2 separate regions of the Homo sapiens genome follow, and region 1 is linked to region 2. Evidence: fine-mapped expression QTL. A gene starts in region 2. The other region holds a variant in brackets. All regions are shown on one strand. Distances are between the middles of the regions. Region 1 overlaps PLCH1 (phospholipase C eta 1). Region 2 holds the start of PLCH1 (phospholipase C eta 1).

Region 1 (8,336 bases), 190 kb after region 2:
TCACTTACAGAGAGAAGGGGAAAAGAGGAAGAGGCCTGAGGACTTCAGCAATACAACGATTAGGAGTAGGGAGCACAAGGGGAGCCAGCAAGGCCAGTGCAGAGAACAGGAGTACTTGGATCTAAAGGATGAAAGGGTTAGAAAGGAATAGCCAGAAATGCCACAGGGAACAGAAAAATAAAATAAAACTAAGTATCCAATTTAGTTGTATTTGACAGCAGGGAATTGTTGGTGGCCTTTGCTATGTAGGTTGGTGATATGTTAGTGGGCAGTTGGTTACCTGCTGTCGATTGGTGACTGGGCATTTTTCTGCATCCAAATGTTTGATGATATAGGCTGGGGGGCAACTTTGAGACTTGGAAGTGGGGGAAATAATATAGGTTTGTTTTCAGGTGGAATAAAGGGGACAAGAGATTTTTGAAAGGGCGCATGCCTGTTTTCTCAGAGAAGTAGGAGAGAACATCATCCACTCAGTATAAAGTGAGTGGAGATTGGCCACAGGGCTTAAAATCAGCAAATTGTTAAAGAAGTCATCAGAGAATGGGAAAGGAATTGACAAGGTAAGTCAGGGAAGCCCAAGCTGATTTCAAAAACAGTCTTTACTGATTCAAAATCTGGATGCTTAGACTCCCTTTGATCCCATCCCCAGCAGTACTCATCTGCTTAGAGAAGTAGTGAAGACAGATTATGGAATTGATCCAAGTCTCGGGATTTCTAGATCATATTAAATATCTTCAAGGTATTGGTGAGAGCTCTTATAAGTAACTGACAGGGGCTCCATGGTTCTAGGAAAGGAAGCGAAGTGGATAGGGGGCCATAAAATAAGATTAAGAGACTAGAAGACTCAAATAAATAGAAAAATGTGGAAAGTTGTCATCACACTTTAAGAAAATGAGAACAGAGCTGTCATTGCAATGGGATTTAGTCACAGGTGACAATTTCCAGATTGTGTCATGGGTGAGCATCATGGAAACAGAGTGAAGCAAGGGATTATTGGCCTGGAGGAGGTCAGTGCTAAGGGATTAAATAGATGGCTACATGGTGTTTTAATTTACAAAGTATGCAGACAGGAGCAGATTGGAGATTAAAACTATAAACCAGACACTTAAGTATAAAAACAATGTGGCCAGGCGCAGTGGCTCATGCCTGTAATCCCAGCACTTTAGGAGGCTGAGACAGGCTGAGGCTTGAGGTCAGGAGTTTGAGACCAGCCTGGCCAACATGGTGAAACCGCATCTCTACTAAAACTGCAAGAATTATCCGGGCATGGTGGCATGCACCTGTAGTCCCAGCTGCTCAGGAGGCTGAGGCAGGAGAATCACTTGAACCCAGGAGGCAGAGGTTGCAGTGAGCCGAGATCATGCCTTTGCACTCCAGCCTGGGCAACAGAATGAGATTCCATCAAAAAAAAAGTACTGGAGAGGATGTGGAGAAATAGGAACACTTTTACACTGTTGGTGGGACTGTAAACTAGTTCAACCATTGTGGAAGTCAGTGTGGCGATTCCTCAGGGATCTAGAACTAGAAATACCATTTGACCCAGCCATCCCATTACTGGGTATATGCCCAAAGGACTATAAATCATGCTGCTATAAAGACACATGCACACGTATGTTTATTGCGGCATTATTCACAATAGCAAAGGCTTGGAACCAACCCAAATGTCCAACAATGATAGACTGGATTAAGAAAATGTGGCACATATACACCATGGAATACTATGCAGCCATAAAAAATGATGAGTTCATGTCCTTTGTAGGGACATGGATGAAATTGGAAATCATCATTCTCAGGAAACTATCGCAAGAACAAAAAACCAAACTCCGCATATTCTCACTCATAGGTGGGAATTGAACAATGAGAGCACATGGACACAGGAAGGGGAACATCACACTCTGGGGACTGTTGTGGGGTGGGGGGAGGGGGGGAGGGATAGCACTGGGAGATATACCTAATGCTAGATGATGAGTTAGTGGGTGCAGCGCACCAGCATGGCACATGTATACATATGTAACTAACCTGCACAATGTGCACATGTACCCTAAAACTTAAAGTATAATAATAATAAGAAATAATAATTAAAAAAAAAAGAAAAGGTGATTAGAAGATGCCAGAAAGGTATAGCTGGATAGAATAAGCTTCAAAAGAGGAGAGATTTTTTAATGAGTGTAGAAGAACAATCATTTAAAAGTAGCAGTAAAGGCATAGATAATGCCTTTTGGTTTATATCTAAATCTTCTGTGATTTATACAAAAGAGCATCCTTGGAGAAAGGAAGTAGTGCCCTCGAAGGTAAGCTGGTGCTTAGCCAGGGTAAGGAGGTTGAGGAGAATTCCAAAGGGAGTCTGAAGATAAAAGGGAGTTGGTTTATGATTGAATGGAGATGCCATGAGTCACAGGGAATTGTCTTTTGATTTTGGTGGGGAATGTGCTGGGAGTCAGCAGTGGGATGACTGGTTTTCCTAGGCATGGTGGAAAGTGCAGGGCAATGAATAAAGCAGTAGGACAATGAGATAAGACTGCTTAACTGGAAGGGCCTTTCTTTGTCAGATAGTTTCTAGCTTGAATTTTCTGCTACAAAAGTGACAGTAATGTTATTAAGGTAAATCAACATGCTTAAAAAATGGGCAGGTATTAAAAACTACCTGCATACAGAAACATTAGGATGACTACAAATTGAATGCTCTGTAAATTTAGTCGTTCAATAGTATTTTTGCAATAGTTGCAGAGAGTACATACCAGCAATAGTGATTAACAATTGAGTAGCTTAAACAACTGAATAATGAAGATGCTATAAAATATTAAGAGGAAGAAAATCCTTTCAAGCAGTAAGATGTCTCAAGGTGACATTCTGCTCTCAGCCATTATTCAGCCCTTTGTTTGCTTAGCACTCAACAAGTTTTCATGTCTGGCATGCATAGAGATGCCCTGAGCACACAGCCTCATTGGATTCACACTGATGGTTGCCTATCATTGTAAATAGTGACATTTTCTTGGAGGTTCAAGTACAGAAAATGACTTTTAGTGACTCCATGAAGTGACAGTCAACTCTAGACAATTTTACAACTTTGTTAATTCTGTCTCTTCTGCTCTATTTCTTTTGCTTTTCAGTTCTTTCAGATACCTAGGCTTCTCTTTTTGGTTTACCTGTCCAAAATCAGTATCCTACCCAAGCCTAACCATGTTTCTGTCATTAATTCCTTATACCGACTCAAAACTTCTAAACCTCCAGCTTTGTTTGGGGTATTAAGAAGGAAAGTTATCTGATTAAGATAATTCATGATAAAGTACACATGATTTTTAGTTGTTGCTTTTCCAGTAGTCTTTTAATTCTAAAATGGGAGCTTTTGGAAATTGTGTGCAGTAGATGACATTGAACAAGAGCCTTCTCTTGTACCTTCTTACTTCCTGTTTTCCAGTCGCTGCTGTAATATAAAGAAGCTACTTGGCTCTGTATGTCCAAAAGGTTACCTTCTCCAGATACTTGTACAAACGAGGCTATGCACAGCTATGGTATAATTTTGAAGGATATGTAATTTTTTATATGCTCCCAAATATCTTCCTCACCAGCTTGCATCAGTAAATTCTTTCCCTAGTATTTGGCTTAAAGTTCTTATTATTAGAATAATCTATAACTGGACAATAGAAGTTGAACTACTATTTCTGGAATGTTTTTCTTGAGGAGAATAATTATATTTATCTCAGAGACTTGGCCAGCTTTGCATTTGACCTATTTCTTTGTATTTGTTTGTTCATTTTGTTTTTGTGTGTTTGACCTATTTCTTATTGGAAATAGTGGTTGTCACCTTGGATTTGAATGTATTGTAGGAAGGAAAAGAGGACCTACTATGATTTTAGCAACTTTAGTGGACCAGGTCCTGGCTAAGTGTTTTCCGTGCATTCTCATTTAATTCTTATAACACCACCAAGAAAGAGGGAATAATCTCTTCTTAAGAGATTCAACTCATAGTTAAATAAATGGCTTAAGTTCCCGAGGTTAGGAAGCTTGGAAGCTGGGATTTGAACTCAGGTTGGTCTGACTCTTGAATTGCACTGTTCTCCAGAAAGTCTGTGTGTTTTTGGAGGAGCAAGCATTGAATGACATGACCAGCCCTAAGGAATTGAATGAGGCTGTCA[T/G]GTCATATAAGGATGGCCAGAGAAAGTGAGGAGCACAACATAGAGGAGAGGTTGGCATTAAAAGGAGGAATTTGCTTCATTTGTGATTAGGCCTACCACCTAAATATTTAGATGTTCCTGAAGGCTTAGCATTTGGTGACATGATCTCTGTGGTCCTCCTAACAATATCTGTCAGTCCTGTGATTTGAAGACCTTAGTCCACATTTGAAGCTTGGGCACAGAGACACCAGTGTGTGTATAGTAGTCTCCTCTTATCTGCGGTTTCATTTTCCATGGTTTCAGTTAGCCATGGTCAGCTGCACCCCGAAAATATTAAATAGAAATTCCAGAGAGAAACAACATATAAGTTTTAAGTTGTGTACCATTCTAAGTAGTGTGATGAAATCTCACACCGTCCTACTCTGTCCCTTCTTCACCACAAGAGGAAAGGTGATACAGTAAAATATCTTGAGAGAGAAACCACATTCACATAACTTTTATTGCAGTATAATTGTTCTGTTTTACTATTAGTTATTGTGAATATCTTACTGACCTAATCTATAAACTAAACTTTATTATAGGTATGTATATGTAGGAAAAAAACAAGGGTGTATGTATAAGGTTCAGTACTTTGCAGTTTCAGGCATCTACCGGGAGCCTTAGAATTTATCTCCCGAGGATAAAGGGGTACTGCTGTATACCTAGTGGCATTTTATCTGCCATGTGGCCAGATGAAGGTATTTTTATTCTTAAACAGCTGCAGTTAGAATTTAAAGAACACAATTTATAGAATGTAGCCGGTCATGGGTTGAAAATTTCAGGTCCCACAGCTGTTTTCTGAAGCAGCTTTTGCTAAGTGTAGCACTTGAGAGATGGAGAAGAATGATTCTACAGTATTTTCACACTATTGTGACCTGGAGGTTCTCTCTACTTTCAAGCTTCTATTTTGGTAATGTTATGTTTTCCATCTCCATTAGTTCAGCTGCAATAATGTCCTTAGTCAGGATATGTACACAGTGTCTTGAGGAAGAGCAATAAGTCTTTTTGGTGAGGTGGGCTTGTCAGCAAATCAAATGGATAACATTTTTACATGGCCTTTTATTCGCTTGATTTTCAGCCTGAGTTGCTTAATAAATATGGATGTTCTGTCCAGGGGATTTTCATTCTCATTATGGGACTGATGTTGCATTGCTGTTGTAATCGGTTTATGACTTCTCCAGTTATCTCTGGGAGTGCTATCAGGGTGGAACGTCTTTAAGCTCCATTATGAAAAGCTGTCATGTTAGCTATTTGGCCTTCAGAATGGCTAAATCTTTGTTGGAGTTGCTTTGCTTTTGGGGTTCCATAGTGTGTAACCTGATTGAAAAATGGGCCCCGGCTCTTTTATGAGCAGGGGAATTGGACAGAGGATTTCTACCTTGCCAACATTCCCATTTACAGCATTAGCACTTACAGGAAACTTCACTGCCATTTGAACCTGGCCACGAATGCCACATATTAAGATGCCAGTACCATTTGGGAATGTTGTTATCTTCATCTCACAGACAAGTGATGGAATTAGATATAAAAATTGAACATTAGGAGAACCTCCTATCCTCAGTTATGAATATTCTGCCTATGTTGTAAATACTAGCCAAAGAGTGCCTTCTTTCATGACTCGTGTAGTTTTAATTTTTGATGTAGACACCATAAGCAAGTCGGGCAAGGTATTGCTTTGTCGCCTTTGCATTCTTTTGGAAAAGCTATTAGTTCCTTTATGAAGAATCCTGTTATGCTCTTTCTTCTCCAAGAAGGGACCACAAAACAGGGTAAAAATTGTTAAAATTATATATTATTTGAAACACCTGTTAAGTTTTTTCCATAATTATTTCCAGAGACAAATTAAAGACTGTCAAGTACATGGAAAAATATGGATGACGCTTCTCTTGTGAGAAGATGTTGTTGATACATATGACCTCATTTGCAGGCCCCAAGGAATAGTAGACACTCTCTGATAGTATCTCAGAACCTTTGGTTTTCTTAACAGCATTTTATCCTTAAACATTGTTTTTAGCATTCCTGTGGTATCAACTGTGAATGTTTTTTCTTCTTTTATTTTTTCTATTTTTTTCCCATAGGGATATTTGAACAGCCAGTGTTTAGTGGATTAATATAGATAGCTGTATTAGTCGGGGTTCTGCAGAGAAACAGAACCAATAAGATATGTAGAGAAAGCAAGAGATTGAGATTCGTTGTCTGATTTTTAAGGAATTGACTCTCATGCTTGTGGGTGTTGGCAAATCTGAAATCTGTAGAGCTGGCCAGCAGGCTGGAATTCAGGCAGTTTCTGTGTTGCAGTGTTGAGAATTTATCCTTGAAGGGTAACCTCAGTCTTTGCTCTTAAGGCTCTCAGCTGACTGGGCGAGGCCCACTCACATTGTGGAGCATAATCGGCTTTACCCAAAGCCTACTGATTTAAATGTTAATCCTATTTTTAAAATATCTTCACAGAACATATAGACTGGTGTTTGACCAAATAACTGAACATCATAGCCAAGCCTCATTGACATGAAAAATTAACCATTACAATCACATTGTAATTATGGTGAGCATTTTGAATATTTTAAAAGAAAAACAGAGATATCTCCTGGGGTAATACACAAAACACACATATAGGGGAAGGTGCTACTAAAATAGAGAACATATGTGGTTCACAACTGTGTGGTCCTAATTAAAGGCAGAGTTTCTTTTATTTTGAGACGGAGTTTCACTCTTGTTGCCCAGGCTGGAGTTGCAATGTCACGAGCTCGACTCACTGCATCCTCCACCTCCCGGGTTCAAGCGATTCTCCTGCCTCAGCCTCCTGAGTAGCTGGGATTACAGGCATCCGCCACCACACACAGCTAATTTTTGTATTTTTAGCGGAGAAGGGGTTTCACCATGTTGGCCAGGCCGGTCTCGAACTCTAAAGGCAGACTTTCAATCAGCATTCCATTATGCAAATTCAGCTTGCAGAAATGTTTATGTTTGACCCATATTGTAGTTTTAAAAATGGATTAATTGCCAGTATTTAAAAATTGGGAAAATTCACAGCAATAAAATCTAGACATTTTAGTTTCCTCAGAAGTTCTGGCAACCAAGGTTCTCATTCCTACTTAGTAATGATTAACAGTAAGTAGTTATCTCATTCAGGCACACATTTCCCATTGAGCCGCTGCACTTATTTATATTAACTGCTAGGCTTTTGGTGGTGTTTGAGATGATGACCTCTTGCCATAAGGAAAAGAGAGATCCTGTGGGCTAGCGAGGTTCTGTGGGGGATCCTAGTTTTGCCTTGATTAGGATTTAGGTAAGCAAAATGAGAAGGGGATATGTCAGTTGACTTTAAAGAAAGAAGAAAAGACACATGGAGGTGGGAATGTGTGTGAGAAAATTTGCCTAACCAGAAGAACAAGCCTGTGAGCTTGGGTGTAGGAGAAAGTAAGATTGAATTGTCAGACAGGAGCTAGCATGGTAATTAAGGCAACATTGTCCTTTTAACAATAAAACTTCAAATTTCCTGTGCCTTAAAACAACTGAAGTTTATTTCTTGATTATGTCAAGTTCAAAATAGGTGTTCCTAGTGGGTGAATCTCTCAAGCAGTTTTGTCTTTTTCCATCTTGTGGCTGTGCCATCTTCACCACTTCTAAAGTCACAGCAGAAGAGGAAAGAAGACGAATGATTATGTAAGGCAGCAGGTTTCTGTCAACCATACCTGGAAGTGGTGCACATACTTTCTGCCCACATTTCACTGGCCACATCCTCCTGCAAAGGAAGGCTAGGAAATAGAGTCCAGCTGTGTTCCCTCGATAAAAGAAGAAACAGGGTTAGTGAATGATTAGCCAGGCTCTAGCACAAGAGACAGGGGCGTTGGAGGTAAGCACGCAAGAGCTATTGTATGAGGTAAGATATTTATTAATCCATTTAGCATATATTTACAGACTACTTACTTCTCTGTGTTGGATGCTGTGCTATGCACCAAGTAGGCTTTTGAGCAAAGGAGCAATGAGGTGAAAGTAGTGTTTTGAGGAATTAGCCTGGGGGCAAAATATAAAAACAAGAGAAAGCAAATTCTTAGTCAGAGGGGCATGGTGAAAAACCTACTGTCTTTCTCCAGCTGAGAGCTAATGAGATTGTGTGGGTAGAGAGCAATATTAATAGTATCAATAACAATCATAGTTACTATATGCCATGCAGTGTTA
Region 2 (8,336 bases):
TCCCGGGTTCAAGCAATTCTCTGCCACAGCCTCCCGAGTAGCTGGGATTACAGGTGCCTGCCACCATGCTTGGCTAATTTTTGTATTTTTAGTAGAGACGGGGTTTTACCATATTAGCCAGGCTGGTCTCGAACTCCTGACCTCATGATCCACCCGCCTCAGCCTCCCAGAGTGCTGGTATTACAGGTGTGAGCCACCGTGCCCAGCCCATATCTATTCTTTTTATTTGCCAGAATCTCTTCCTGCCTTCACTTGGTAGGACCAGCCCCTTTCATCTTGGGAACAAATCCTCCCTGGTTCCAAGCAGTTCTGATGGGCTGCTACTTATAATACCCCGCCTTCCTGGCCATAAGGGTGTGTGTATAATCAGGATCTGGCCACACATATACTCTACTTATTGTTGTCCACAGTAATTGACCTATGGATGGACACATGACCTAAGTCAGGTCAGTTCGAATCCTTTCCTACCATCTTATTTACAGATGGTAAAAGCAAAAAGGCCTCTCTAGCTGAGACGATTGAAACCTGGAGCTGTCTCTAGTCATGCTCTCCCCACCCCCAGCTTGTACAGAAAGCTCATATGGAATAGGAGAGAATAGGATCAAAACACTGAGAAAAGCAGAGACAGGGAAATAGTAGGAGCAAAGGTGAAAGTGTGAGAGTGACAAAAATTCCTTGCTTGGCCAAACAAACATTAGTCATGCTTCTGAGCCTTCTCCTGGGCCCATATGTGCGTTTTCTTGTAAAACTCAGTTTTAGAAAAGAGTTCTGCCAAGTCAGTTTAGCAAGAACCCCCACTCTCCATATCTGATCATTCTCAATATCTGATCAGATCCCTCATCCTCCACTATTGCCCAGGTCATGTCTGATCTCCCTGGCCTGTGTTCAGCAAGAATCCAGTTATGTCGGGTTAGCTAGAGTTCCTCATATTCCTGATGTTTCCTCTTAGTGATTTTTCATCCAGCAACCCCATCTGTTCTTTGTCTATAAATTCCAAGCTGCCTATGCTGTATTCTGCATGAGCTCCTTGCAGTAGTCCCTGTGCCGATTTCGATCGTGCTGGATAAAGCCTTCCTTACCATGCTTTAACACTGACTAATTTTTTCTTTAACAAGAGAAATGCTGATTCTGAATTGCTAGACTCCCACCGTTTCTGAAGTCCTTATCCTTCCCCCTATCTTAAAGTGGGAGTCAATACATCAGCTTTTTTTACTCAAGCTGGTTTGATAAGGGGTTTTGTTATTTGTACCTAAAAGCCGTGACCAATTTGTAGAGTAGGGCCATAAAGACAGGTACTACGCTCTACTTCAGGAGTGCTATCTATATTCCAGCTAAGGCTTACCACCTAGAGCAGTGCCTGGTACATGGCAAGTACTAAAGAAATATGTGTTGAAAGAGGAGTGCCTCTTCCTTGATACGCTTTTTTGGTCAATGGTTTTCTTAACTTGGTGCATTGATTAAAATAGGGAACATTTATCTCCTTTCCTCTCTTGCTCGTGGATATAACTCAAGATGGTTGCTGTTTAAATTTGAACACCTTAAATAAATGGCTCTTTTTGCAACTGGAAGCACAATTTTTGCACAGCTAGAAAAATCTTTTTCCAACACAGAAATTCCCAGTGCAGTTTTCTAAGAAACCCCCTACGATACGCAGCACAGCAGGCTCACCACAAGGCACATCAATCATTTTACTGTGTATCAGGCACCTCTTACAGGATTTTCTGTGATCCTGGTGTCAGTGCACATTCTGTATCAAGGCAGAGATGATATGTAGAAATCTGGCAGCTATTTAGAAGGGAGGCTGGGCAGTGGTGTGCCAGTATAATTAATGAGAGTCATCGCTTAGGAAATGAAGAGGGTGGGGGTTGGGAAGGATGCCTTTCACCATTCAATGGCATTTAAGAAAAATTGATGCTTTCTTAGCACTTTTAATGCTGGGAGGACATTAAGTCAAAGAATCACAGCAAAAGATTTTTGTAACTACTGTACAGATGGATGTCCCTGTGCTTGAAGAGGCAGGGCTAATTCAACCCCAGACTTTTCAGCCAGGCGGATTTCAACCTTGTATTGAGCTACCAGCAGGAGTTCTTTATACTTGGAAAAGTGGTAAATCCTTACTAAAAGATCATAGCTTGCATGACCAAGAGATCCTCTAGAAAAGGTACTTTACTACCATGTAGGATGTTTGTCTTACCTGCCCAAAGAAGTTTTAATGAAGATCTCATTTTCTCCAGTTCCCCTTTAACCAGTGAAAGAGGAGGGTATTATTTGTTTTGTTTTTCTATTTATTCTTTGGTAACCATGGAAGAGTTTGTGTAACCTAGAGAGGCTGCTTATTACCCACTGTCTAATCCCTTTGTTATTATTCCATACTCTGATTGTCACAAGCAGGAAAAATAGTTCTGTCCTGCTTCTAAAAACTTAGCAATGTAACACATTTTCTTGTTTTTAGTGATTTTCTCCAATTAATTAATTAATTGTTTTAGTGATTTTTCTCAGATAAATAATGTTAAAACGACTTGGAGAGAAAAGCTACATTAAAAGATTATGGATGTATAAATGTCCTAAACATTTAAGAACATGCATAATTATGATTCATACCAACTTCAGAATTATTACCTTTGGGAAGGGGTGGGGGTAACGAGTCAGGAGTTGGGGTTTAGCTATATCTGTAATGCTTTATTTAAAAAAGAAGGGCTGGGGGGAGCAGGAGTATTACATGGTATATATCCTGTTTTTGGTAGGTTTGAAATATCACACAATTTAAAAATTTAAAAGTTTACAAAATTATGGGAGTTGATTAAAACTATCAAAATAAAGAATGCATAGCAAACAAGTGCTCTTATTATGAACTTTGTGTCTGAGTTTATTTCAACATGTGCATCTGCATTTTTTCAGACTCAAGAAAGACAAACACCGGAGGTTAGGGGGTGAACTGCTGCTGTTGAGGGATTATCTTGGTGGTTTTTTTTTTTTTTTTTTTTTTTTTGGCTTTTCTATTCACCATGGAGGTTACCAGCAAAACAAATCTCCAACAAGCTTGTTTACAAAATATAAAGCAGTTTGGAGGCAGAGGGTTAATGACTTAATTTCTTATAAATTGAGGCTTGTGTATGGGCATGCAAAAAAACAAAAACAAAAACAAGTAAATTTGGGGAGGTTTCTTTCTATAGAGGCAAAGGACCTTACCTACATTTTTTCCAAATTGATTTCTTCCTGGTACTATTGGCAGGAAGAAATTCAAGTGGGTATTCTGGTGGCTTTTTTCTTTTTTCTGAGAGTCTAGGATTGTTTTCAGGACAAAGTTTCTTCTTGCCCATGGTGCTTTGCTGTGACATTGTAATTGCCTCTGTTGAATTGAATAATACAAATGGGTTGTTTCTATGGTATCGGCTAAGTGGGATGAAAAGGTGAAACCCTAGATCTTGCGCTGAGAGGTCACAGTGCTACCACCCTCCACACTGTCTGTCAAAGAGAACAGGCAGCCAAGGCCCTGAGCTCCAATCTCAGGCACTCATTTGTAACTTACTCGTTTGTAACTTCCTGGGCAAATTCACGCATGAAAAAAGAAAATGACTTTAGTTTATGTTGTCACTAAGCCCAGAAAATCCCTGCCAACCCCATGCTGCCAGCTTTCCTAGGACATTCTTATTGGAGGATTATTTTAAACTGAAAGGTGAGTGAAGAGCTGCGTCCCCACTCCTTCCCAGCCAGGCTTTGAACTAACAATAGGGCAGGTTGAATGAAGGCTGATAAATGTAAATCCTGGAATCCAGAAGCCGGATCACACCGCGGCCGTCTAGGCCAGCGGCGGTTCCAGCATCCGCCCCAAGCTGGTCACTCATCCTTTCAGTGCATTCAGTAGATTTCATCGTTTCATCAACACTTGAGTGCCTGCTTCGTGCAAGCTTTCCTCTGCCACCGCCGCCTTCTTACTCCCGGCAGGTTGCCCGCTTGAGTCAACCAGCCACTAAACGGATCTAAGTGAATAAGTGGCCTGTTAATGCCAAGGAGTAGCATTTCCAAATGAAGAGACTGGGGGTAAATAAAAGCAAAGTGTTACCATTTACACGCTCTCAATTTTAGTTGCACTTCACTCAGAGTAGATCTCTTTAATTTGCGGCATCGACAGATGCTATATTCTTAGAAATTTTTTTTTTTTAAAGGAGGTAAGACGGGCGTTTGAGAACACTTTTTACTTTGGTGCAAGTTGCACGCAGTTCCCATTCACTCAGAGTAGATCTCTTTAATTTGCGGCATCGACAGATGCTATATTCTTAGAAATTTTTTTTTTTTAAAGGAGGTAAGACGGACGTTTGAGAACACTTTTCACTTTGGTGCAAGTTGCACGCAGTTCCCATTCCCTGCGCCCTTCACTTCCAACTTTGTTTCTCCAACTCCTTTACCCCCCACCACCGAGGCCCTCTGGCTACAGCCCCGAGGGGTTACCCTGGGTTTCGAAACTTTTGAAACTTGCGGGGGAGTAAAAGTACTTCATTCCCAGTGCTTCTGGCCCTTGCCAAGCGGGGAGCCCCGCAGGAGAGTGTAAGCCAAGGGTTCCAGGTGCAGCCTTGGGGTTCCACGTGCAGCCCTAGGGTTCCGTACACCCATCCCGCCCGGGCCAGAGGAGGCAGCAGGCGCTCCAGTCCGCTCTCCGCAACTCCAGTTCCTGATTTCCTCGGAAGCTGCGGGGCCGAGAGGGAGGGGGGCTCCTGTGTGAGCGTGAGGATTTGAATGAGAAAGCAGGTTGTGGCGGCGGCGCCCTGCTCTTCCCCGCTCGTCTGGGGCTTCTGCTGGCTAGTGGGGAGAAGTGCTCTTCTAGGGGGGCTTTTCTGGCCCTTGGCAGGGGTTTGGAGTTGGAGTCACAGGGGCCAATAACTCATCACCCCAGCACTTCGGAGGTGGCTCCTTGTGCCACGGACTCCGAGGAGTCCTTCAGCTACTGAACACTCAAAGCTGAGGAGGTCAGTGCTTTCGGGGGAAGAAGGGGCCCAGGAGAGAAGGGGGTGTGCAGGAAAAAGAGAACTGGTACGCCAGTCCGATGAGCGAGTGAGCAGGTGGCCCAAGTTCCTTTCTCGGCAGCCACAGCCGGCACACGCCTGTTTAGGACTGTGAGTGCTGTGCGTGGGGATCCCCTAAGGCCCCGTGCGGGGAACTGGCCACGGCCGCTCTTCAGGGTCCCATAATTCAGAAGGATGAGGGTGGGTGTGTGTGTCCGCGAAATAATGTAACTCTCGGGTCCCTTGCGGTGGTGGTGGGTGGCGTTTCGCCCGGTGGAAGGTCCAGCCTCGCTGCAGGATGCTTCACCCTCACGCGGGGTCCCGGGACCCTCTCTCTGACCGCCAGACGCCGCCAGGAGAGCAGGTCCGCGTTTCCCAGCAAGGGGAGTGCAGCGTCCGTTACACTTGGGGAGTCTCACAGCTTTTCCTGCGCCCGGTGACCCTGCTCAGGACCTCTTAGAGACTAGGTGTGCTCAGCGCGAGGAGGATATACTCCATTGCCCTTTCCTGGGAAGAACCAAGAGCGCCCGAGCGGCGCGGGGTGGTGGAGGCAAACCCCGGCCCCGCGGCGGCACGCTCTGCGCCTGCGCGGCGTTTCCTTGGCGACTGAGCTGCGGGTCCGAGACGCCACCCCGCGAGCCCCTAAACCCAGTTCCCTGTTGAGCGTCTGCGACGCCCTCTCCCCTCCTTCCCGAGGCTTTTTCTATTTGTTTCCTTCTGCGAATCAATTTGTGATCACATTTTGACGTTGAGAGTTCAGCATTAAAGCAATAACCAACTAAATTAAAAAAAAAAACCCAACTTTTCCCTTCCCTTGTTACCGTTTTGATCACGGACAGAAGAAAATGGTGAGAGATTAGTTATTAGGGCAGCAATTGAAATCCCCCTCTGTCCCGAAAAGGGGAGACGAATAAAACATTTACTTCCTGGTAAGGAGTTAGAAAATTCAGTGAAGTGATTGTTCTCGAGCGTTACAAGAACAAATCTGTGCCTCCTAACCCAGGTGAAGAGCAGAGCTTGTACAACCCAGCAGCACCCATGTCCTGTTTATTGGCATGTTTATGACAAGGAGATGCTCTGCAAAAGGGACCAGAGTATAATGCCAATGAAAAGAAACAAAGGATTTCCCAGAAGAGGCGGTAGTTTTTTTCAGTTGCCTCAGCGTTTTGGTCACCTTTGGGGTTAAAGTCTTCTGCAGAGAATGCTTCAAGAAGCCTTAACAGAAGCCAGTTTTCTCAAGCTGGTCATTTTCTTTTTCTTTTTTTCTTTTTTGAGACGGAGTCTGGCTCTGTCGCCCAGGCTGGAGTGCAGTGGTGCGATCTCGGCTCACTGCAACCTCCGCCTCCTGGGTTCAAGCTATTCTCTTGCCTCAGCCTCCCGAGTATCTGGGATTACAGGCTCCCGCCACCACGCCCAGCTATTTTTTGTATTTTTAGTAGAGACGGGGTTTCACCATATTGGCCAGGCTGGTCTGGAACTCCTGACCTCAGGTGATCCACCCACCTCTGCCTCCCAAAGTGTGGGGATCACAGGCGTGAGCCACCGCGCCCAGCAGATGAGAATCATTTTCATTTTCATAAAATTGTGAATCTTGACAGCCCTATCCCCTCTTTTAAAATCCGTTTGTTTACATACAGCCTAGCATTTGGCAAAAGTACACATCTTAAGGGGTATGTAGAAGGAGCGGTAGCTTCTTGCTTATTTTTCTTAAACTGCATCAATATTTGGCAGCATGATTGGTACCTAGTTGCTATTTAACATTGGTTAGAATTAACATAAATGCTAATACAAATTTAAAATGGAGTTATTCTTCTTGGGATAAAGTGTGGCATAAAATACCTTGGATGAAGTAATACGTGAGTACTGTCTCGCTACATACCAGTTTCAAGCAATTTGTTTTCAAGAATAGCAAGTGTTTATTTGTGGTAGATGTTTTAAGATAATATCCTCCCACCATCAGCAAATGAAATCAAACATACCACTTTTCAAATGATTAGCGAGTAACATGCTGTTAAAGTTGTCTCCCATCTCATTTGTCATAAATTCTTAACATTGTGCAATCCATCTAGCTCAAATGTTTAAAAATAAGTCCAACTGAGTTTTTCCCCTTTTCTCATGTTTAGCAAAATAGAAAAACTCTTAATTTTCAGGTTCAGATACTTTGTGACCCTATTTGGTGGCTTGTAACTGGCTCCAATTCCCTAATTCTCAGTGACATGTGTTTCTGCTGGTTCCAGGAGGTAAACTGCAGTTTTAACAGATCATGGGATAATGAGACTGGGAGTACCTGGGGGAGGCTGGGGAGAGGCAATGGGAAGGAGACAAAGAGAGGGAAGGTTGATGGGCAGAGCGAGGATTTATAGTGGCACCAGATTTGCAATAAAATCTGTTTAAAGTTATTGCTTCCGTTTGATATATTTTCCCACATCATCAACTTCAATTAAATTTATTTTAAAAATCAGTCTTTCAGATATAGGGCTAGTATTATAAACATAGAATATGATAAAAGTGCTCCTTGTTAGGGTGCCATAATGTAAAATACTGTGAAAATTCTTAACGAAATGTTTTTTACTTAATTTATTCACTTAGTCAACAAATGTTTATTGAGAACGTATTATATATAAGGCAAGATGAATAAATCCAGATTTCTGTTCTGAATGAACTAAGAGCTGTGAGTCCTGAAATAATTCTAATACCACTTCAGACGTTCAGAGTGAAGATACTACCTTTGGTACTCTTAAGGAGAACGATTGATTTGGTGCTAATCACTCAGACTTGCAGATTCAGAAACAAATGCTGAAACTGAGTAATTTAGATAAGGCTGTACATCTAGGATAGGAAGCATTATGTGCACCTATTTGCTTACATTTTTGAAGTACAAACTCTACTCTAAAACTTGTAGTCTTGGCAAGTGCAGCACAGAGTTTAGAAGAAACAGAAACCTTGTAATTCTCAGGTTTCTTAGATGAAGATAAGGTGAGTGATTCAGTAATCCTTTGTTCTGGCTCTGTGTTTCATGACATAATGAACCTTCTGCAGCTTCCTTCTAAGAATGTTGGTCTGCATGCCTGAAGGATCATAACTATTTTTTCCCTGAACAAAAAAAAAAAAAAAAAAAAGAGGATATAAAATTATGATAAAAGGATAAAAGGAATACAATAGAGTATTTAAACATTTAACTTTTGAGATGGAATAATTTCTAGACATTTTTAGTGAATTTAAACTCTTGAAATCCATTACAGCCATGACAAAATCCTGGCATAATGTTGACCAGGGTTGACAAACATCTCCTCTTGTCATTCCTAGGACATAGACGGTTAGGGAAACTCTCATCTT

The links.
Region 1: its variant is fine-mapped to the expression of PLCH1 in whole blood (INTERVAL, PIP above 0.99).

What each region holds. Positions count from the first base shown.
Region 1 is chr3:155,554,869-155,563,204 of GRCh38, reverse strand. All of the region lies in intron 8 of PLCH1 (phospholipase C eta 1), which reads left to right. Among named protein-coding and RNA genes, the nearest start is that of PLCH1-AS2, 73 kb to the right of the region's middle. The variant T/G (reference allele first, on the strand shown) is at 4,137.
Region 2 is chr3:155,741,468-155,749,803 of GRCh38, reverse strand. It overlaps PLCH1 (phospholipase C eta 1), which reads left to right and starts at 4,733. Exons shown (of 23, transcript NM_014996.4): 1 at 4,733-4,964. RefSeq lists enhancers at 4,771-4,980, 4,875-5,496.